2 linked regions of the Homo sapiens genome follow. The protein of the gene in region 1 interacts with the protein of each later gene in a biochemical or structural test. Each region holds a gene or a part of one and is shown on either strand. Other genes may lie near its edges. The genes, in order: KLF2 and WWP1.

Region 1 (4,360 bases):
CTGTGGGGCAAAGAGGCAATTTATGGCTCAAAGAACAACCTTAAAATAACCCTCCCTCAGTCCTAAAATGCAGTGTCTAAATTTACAGAAAAACCCACAGGTTCCTGGCAGGCAGGCACAGCAGCTGGCAGTCCCGGTGCTGGCAGACGCAGGACCCACTGCACACGATGCTTTAGTGGGGCTGCCCTCCATCAAACTCTCCGCTCCCCCCTCCTCCCAAGTGCCCCAAGGCCCCAGTTCCAAGCAACCAGACCAGTGCTGTGATTTTTTTTAAAAGATGCAAAACTTTTTAATTAAAAAAAAAACCAACCCAGCAAAATCTTATAAAAACGAACCAGGTAGCCCAAAAATGCCCACCTGTCTCTCTATGTACAGTAATACAATATTTGTCAGTCACTATATACAATATTATAAAAAATGCCGCAGACAGTACAAATTAAGGCCCTTATTTCTCACAAGGCATCACAAGCCTCGATCCTCTAGTGTAGACCCGGTGGGAGAGAAGATGCCACTTAAATTATTGCACCATTTTGAAAAACAAAACTCGTCAAGGAGGATCGTGGTCTTTTCCCACCGGGCCTTCAGTCACAGACGGGGGCTGGGGTGGTGGCGTCGTCGTCGTCGTCATCGAGGGAGACCCTCTGTAGCCACGCTGTGCCCGGCCCGGTTCTCTGGGTCCAATAAATACCAGTCACAGTTTGGGAGGGGGCCGCGCCCGGCGCGTGGGACCCGCCACGGCCGCGCGCAGGTGGGCGGGGGCGTCCCGGCTACATGTGCCGTTTCATGTGCAGCGCCAGGTGATCGGAGCGCGAGAAGGCACGATCGCACAGATGGCACTGGAATGGCCGGTGGCCCGTGTGCTTTCGGTAGTGGCGCGTGAGCTCGTCTGAGCGCGCAAACTTCCAGCCGCAGCCGTCCCAGTTGCAGTGGTAGGGCTTCTCACCTGCAGGGAGGGGGCGAGAGTAAGCGTCAGTTCCCCTCCCAGGACAGGGCACGTATGGCTACCCCGGCGAGCGCAACCTATCCCTAACCAGGGCCTTGACGCGCTCCCCGCGGTAGTGTTGCGCCCCTGAGGGATCCTTGCCCTACATCCCCAACTCCCCCCACAATCCGGATCCTCACCCCCAGGGGGTCGGAGGAGCGCAAGGTCCACTCCCCACTGTTGTCAGCCACGCTCCCCGACGGGTCCTAAGCATGCACCCTCTCTCCAGCATTCTAAGACACGGAATCTCTCAAGGTTTCCCAGCGAACACTCCCTCCCCAAGGTCCTGAGCCTTGTCCCCAGAGGAGTCCCAAGCCTGAGCGCCCTCCCCAACTTCCTGAGACGCAGCATCTCCCCGGGGTTCCTAAACGCGCACCTACTCCCCAACTACCTGAGCCTCAGCCCCGGGGATTCTGAGCCAAGTGCCCAGCGGCTCCTAAACCTGCTCCCCCTCCCCAACTTTCTGAGACTGTCTCCCTAGCCACGCCTCCAGGAGGTTTTCTAAGTGCTCTTCCCAACCTCCGGAGGCCCCCCTCGTCCTAAGCGTGCAAGCCCCCACCCCAACCTCTCGGATCACACTTCCTTAGGGAGTGTTCCTGTGTGCCCCCCCAACCAACCTCCCGAGCCACGCCTCCTGGGGAGTCCTAAGCGTGCACCACCTGCCAGATCCCCCTGAGCCACGCCCCAAGGGAGGTCCTAAATTCATTTTCTGGCGCGCGCTGGGAATCCGACCTCTCCTCCCGCGTCCCCCCGCCTGCGCTCCTGGCTCGTGCGTGCCGCCCACCTGTGTGCGTGCGCAGATGCGCCTTCAGATGCGAACTCTTGGTGTAGGTCTTGCCGCAGCCCGCGTAGCTGCAGGTGTGAGTGGCGGTGCGTTTGCGGGGCCAAGAGCGGCGGCCGCGCTTTGGCTTGGCCTCCAGCAGCTCCAGCGGGGACGCAGGCGGCGTGAGGAGACCGCGGGCGGCGGGGGGCGCCAGGCCCAGGGCTGCCGCGGCGGCGGCCGCGTCGTCGAAGAGACCGAAGGCTGGGGGCGCAGGCGGCGCGTAATGCAGGCCGGGCCCGGGCGCGCCGAAACCAGGGCCACCGAAAGGCGGCGGGAAGGAGGCGCGCGGACCGGGCGCGGGCAGGCGCGCGGGGCCGTCGGGGCTGAGCGGCGGTGTGTCGGGCGGCGGCGGGGGGCGGCCCCCGGGACCTCGCATGCACGAAGCCGCCGGGCCCGGGGCGCCCTCGCGCTTGAGGCCGCGCGGTCCACGGGTCAGCCCGGGGGCGCAGCCGTAGCCGCCGCCGCCGTCCGCTTCAGGGGGCTCGGCCTTGACCAGGCGGCCGGGCGGCGCCAGCAGAAAGCGGCCGTGCAGTGCGGGCCCCAGCGGCGCATCCAGCTCGGGTCGCAGCAGCTCAGACACCAGGCCACCCGCGGGGGCGCTGTAGGGCGGGGGCGCGCCGGGTTCGGGGTAATAGAACGCAGGCGGCGGGGGCGGCGGCGGCGGCTCCGGGGCGGCCTCGGCGCCCAGGCCATCCAGCCCCATGGACAGGATGAAGTCCAGCACGCTGTTGAGGTCGTCGTCGGTGCCGCCGGACTCGGGTTCGGCGCGCGGCCAGCGCTGCGGGCGACAGGGCAATGGGCGTGAGCGGGCGGCGGGGCTCGGGGGGCGCTGCTTGCCTTTTACCACCCTAAGTCCGCGATCCCCGTGGCCCGCATCCTCCTCTCCTGAGTCTGCAGTCCCCGCCTTCGCGTCCTGTCACCCCGCAGCCCACGTTCTACTACCCCGAGCCCGCCGCCCACGGTCCCGGCCGCCCCGCCGTCCCCGCCGCCCTCACCTCCTGCAGGCCGCGCTCGCGGCACGGGCTGGCGAAAGTGGAGAAGGACGGCAGGATGGGTTCACTCAGCGCCATGGCCGGGACCCGGGGAGAAAGGACGCGGACGGGGACACCGGTGAGTGGCTGCCCGAGGCCGGGCTGGTCGGGGCGCGGGCGGGCGGGGACGGCTCTGTGGGCCGCGGCCGGGCCCGCCCAAGCCTTATAGGCGCGGCGCGCGCGGGGGCCGGGCCAAAGCGGCGGCGGCGGAAACGCGTCCCGGATGGGGACGAGCTCCGGGCGCAGCCTAAATTTAGCCGCGGTATATAAGCCGGCGGGCGGCAGCGGCCGTGGCCACTGCGGCGGCCTGGGCCTTGCGCTGACAGCCCGGCCCCTCGCGCGCCGCCAGGGCCGCGCCTCCCCCTCTCCCGGGCCCCGCCCCCGCCCGTCTCCCCGGCGACGTTGTCAACACGCGCTCCACAACAGCGGCGTGACGCTCAGGGATCCCCCGGGCGCCCCGGGCTCCCGCCTGCGCGAGCATCCCGGGGACCTGGAGCGGGGGCGGTGTCGGGGCCTCTCAGAGACTCTCAGGGGAGCACCGGGCTTGGCGGTCTCCCCGGATCCCTTGACGGAAGGGGAGATTGGCTCCAGCCTCAGAGAGGGCTGCAGAACCCTGGATGGATGGGAAGTCTGGAGTCTCCAGGATTCATGGATGGGTGAGGCTGGGCCCCTCATCTGTTGTGGGACCACCCAGAGGGACCCACCGTGTGCACATCACCCTGTAAAAAAAAACACCTTGTGTAGACCTGGTGCAGTGGGTCACATCTGTAATCCCACCGCTTTGGGAGGCTGAGACAGGAGGATCACTCGAGGCCAGGAGTTCAAGACCAGCCTGGGCAACACAGTGGCCCCCATCTCTTAAAAAATAAAAAAAATTAGCTGGGTGTAGTGGGAGGCTGAGGTGGGAGGATCGCTTGAGCCCAGGAGGTCGAGGCTGCAGTGAGATACAATCACACCACTACACTCCAGCCTGGGTGACAGAGGAGACTGTCTCAAAAAAACAAACAAAACAAAACTTTTGTGTGGTAACATCAAGACACATTAAATCTTTGACATTTGAGACACCCACCCCCTCCTCCCCAACCTCAATAAGCCCGTCAAGTGCAGGGAAACTGAGGCAGAGGTGGCTGGGAGAAGTTGGAGTTGCGGCAGGCACAGGCAGGCTGGGTTCCTTTACTGACTTCCATAAATGAATTAAGTAACTCAGAGGACGGTGATGACAGTCATTCCCCCAATACAGCTCCAGCATCGGGGGCATCAGAGGACAATGCTGCCCAATGGGTCCCTTCAATGCTCCACCTCTGTCCCCCACACCATATCCCTGCTGGCCAGGGACTGTCACTCCTGTTACAACTGTCTGCCAGCCCTGGGTAGGCACTGGGGACACAGTAACCAAGAGATAGACAAGATCCCTGCCCTAGGGGACCTCCACTTTAGTGAAGGAGGGAAGGATAGAGGTTTATTCATTTGAGTTTTTTTGAGACAGGGTCTCCCTCTGTTGCCCAGTCTGGAGTGTAGTAGTGC
Region 2 (2,543 bases), on another chromosome or scaffold:
TTGCATATTTCTGTGGAAGAACGGAAAACATACTTTGAGAGGTTCGGAAAATTCACTGTACAGAATGAACAGCTTATATACACTATCTGTGCAATTTTTCTTGGCTGGGGTATTTAAATGCAAGAGCTCCTCCAAAATAAGAAGCCACATTCATTCTTGTCCAAATCCCTCTGTCTCTTCTATTGCAAAAAGAAGTTTTTCCTTTAGTTGTTCATAACTCTTATATGGTGGTAGATCCAAGCGATTAAAACTGAACAGAAACAAAAACAAAATCAGATGTTTTCAATAAAATGAAAAAAATCTAATAGAATACTTTTCAAAGCACATAGAAATGCTGAATGGATATATGTATACTATATATGTTAAAATTTTGCCAGAAGTATTTAGAGTAATCTAAATTTAAGACTTACATATAAAAACTATTTTAACATCTCCAAGAGGAAAATGGAATTACAAATAATAAGTGTAGCAATATGGATAAAGACAAATTTAAAAAAAAAAAAAAATCCATTTTCTTTTTACTATTCCTGTTACATGTGTCATGAGTCCTCTTAACTTCTCTTAGGATAAGAGTCCATTTCTTTCATCCACTCAGTCACTCATTCATCAGTCATTTACCGAGAATTTTTTATATAACTGATAAGCTAGTGATACAGTGAAGAAAACTAAAATCCCTGTCTTCATGGAATTTACATTCTGGGGTAGAGACAGTCAATTAACAAATATATATGTTTCTTTGTCTTTTCAAATAATCTAACCACATATATAAACTCTTCTAAAATGACACTTTTTCAATCTTGCCATACTCAATTCCATTCTGGTATTAACTGATAAAAATTTTAAAATACTAAAAAATGCTTAAAATAACTATTATTTTTCAGTTTACAAAGGTGGAATAACATTTCGTTTTGTGAGGTACAGCACTGAGTAGCTAGATTAGGATTCGGGTGTTCAGGGTTTTGGTCCCTACAGTAGCAGTGACTAGTGAGATAGCCCTGAGTAAGTCAGAACCCTTCTGTACCTTCATTTTCCCATGTGGAAGGTTTCTAGAGATTATCCAGGTGCCTTCTTACCACTGTCACCACTTTCCATGTGCCCTTGACCCTCCCATGTCAGAGTCAGGAAAGAGCCTTTGAAACAAGGCATCTAAATAAAACAGTGCTGTTCTAAGACTGTATTCTTTGTATTTTAAATGAAGTTAAAGATATTAATAGCAGCAACTAAGCAGACCATATACTGCCCTCCCCTTTATACTTCAAGGTAGAGTATGATAACAAGGTCAGAAAAAAAAATTATTTTTTAATACTTCCTATACAAGACAACCAGTCACTTTCTGTTCTCTTACATCTTTCACATATAGCCTTTGCCAAATTCTGTCATTCTATCTACCAAATATTCCATTTTTTCTCCTGATTATTTATTTGGAGACAGGGTCTGGCTGTGTCGCCTAGGCTACTGTCTCGGCTCACTGCGACCTCGACCTCCCAGGCTGAAGCAATCCTCCCTCCTCCCACCTCAGTCCCTGGAGTGGCTGGGAGTACAGGCGCATGCCACCATGGCCAGCTAACTTTTGTATTTTTTTTTGTAGAGACGAAGTTTTGTCATGTTGCCCAGGCTCCTCCTCATCATTTCTACTGCCACTACATCCCTTTGTATATGCTTCCCCATCATCTCTTACCTGGACCATCAGAGAATTCTTTGGGTCTATTTGTTTTGTTTCTTTTTTACTTTTTGCTAAAAAGACATACCAGTTTATGCCACTCTTCAAAAACTTTTGCTGCTTTCGAGTTGCTATGGGTGGGGAGGGGGCTGTGGTGGGGAAAGGAAGCTTATGCTCTTTGCTGTCAACTTGTTTCATGCTCTAATCCAAGTGAGCAATCCAATTTTGCCTAGCAATCTTAGCCGTGTTCCTCTAATGAATACTTGCCTATTCTCTAACAATTCTCCCAATTCCTTCTTTCTCTCAAAAGTTTTTCCTTTCTTCACTCTTAGCCAGTGACTTCTCCTTATACTTTGAGAAAACAGAAATCAGTGGGTGGTAATTACTTTCCTTTCACAAAATTTGAAATCTATTTTAATTCTCCCTTTGACTCAAAAATCTCTCTCTCAATACACACACACACGCGCGCGCATGTGTGTATACATATGGATCTATCACTTTTATTGAAGGCAGAGGTCTTCAAATTTTGGTCACAGGACTCCTTTTCACTCTTAAAAATACTGTCAACCTTGGCTGGGAGCAGTGGCTCATGCCTATAATCCCAGCACTTTCAGAGGCCAAGGCAGGACAGCTTGAGCCCAGAGTTTAAGACCCACCTGGGACAACACAGCAAAACTTTGTCCCTACAAAAAATTAAAAAATTAGCCAGGCATAGTGGCGTGCACTGGTGGTCCCAGCTACTGAGGAGGCTATGGCAGGAGGATTGCTTGAACCCAGGAGGTTGAGGCTGCAGTGAGTTGTGTCTGTGCCACTGCACTCTAACATAGGTAACACAGCAAGACTCTATCTTGGGAAAAAAAAAATGGATTTCCAACTGCAAAGA

The links.
Region 2: the proteins of KLF2 (region 1) and WWP1 form a complex in vitro, tested with the Homo sapiens proteins (one study listed by BioGRID).

Annotation. Positions count from the first base shown.
Region 1 is NC_000019.10:16,323,439-16,327,798, reverse strand, and holds the start of KLF2 (Krueppel-like factor 2), read right to left. Parts: upstream 2,974-4,360; 5' UTR 2,876-2,973; coding exon 2,801-2,875; intron 2,584-2,800; coding exon 1,767-2,583; intron 944-1,766; coding exon 768-943; 3' UTR 1-767.
Region 2 is NC_000008.11:86,464,501-86,467,043, reverse strand, and holds part of WWP1 (NEDD4-like E3 ubiquitin-protein ligase WWP1), read right to left. Parts: intron 251-2,543; coding exon 151-250; 3' UTR 1-150. UniProt on the Homo sapiens protein: E3 ubiquitin-protein ligase which accepts ubiquitin from an E2 ubiquitin-conjugating enzyme in the form of a thioester and then directly transfers the ubiquitin to targeted substrates.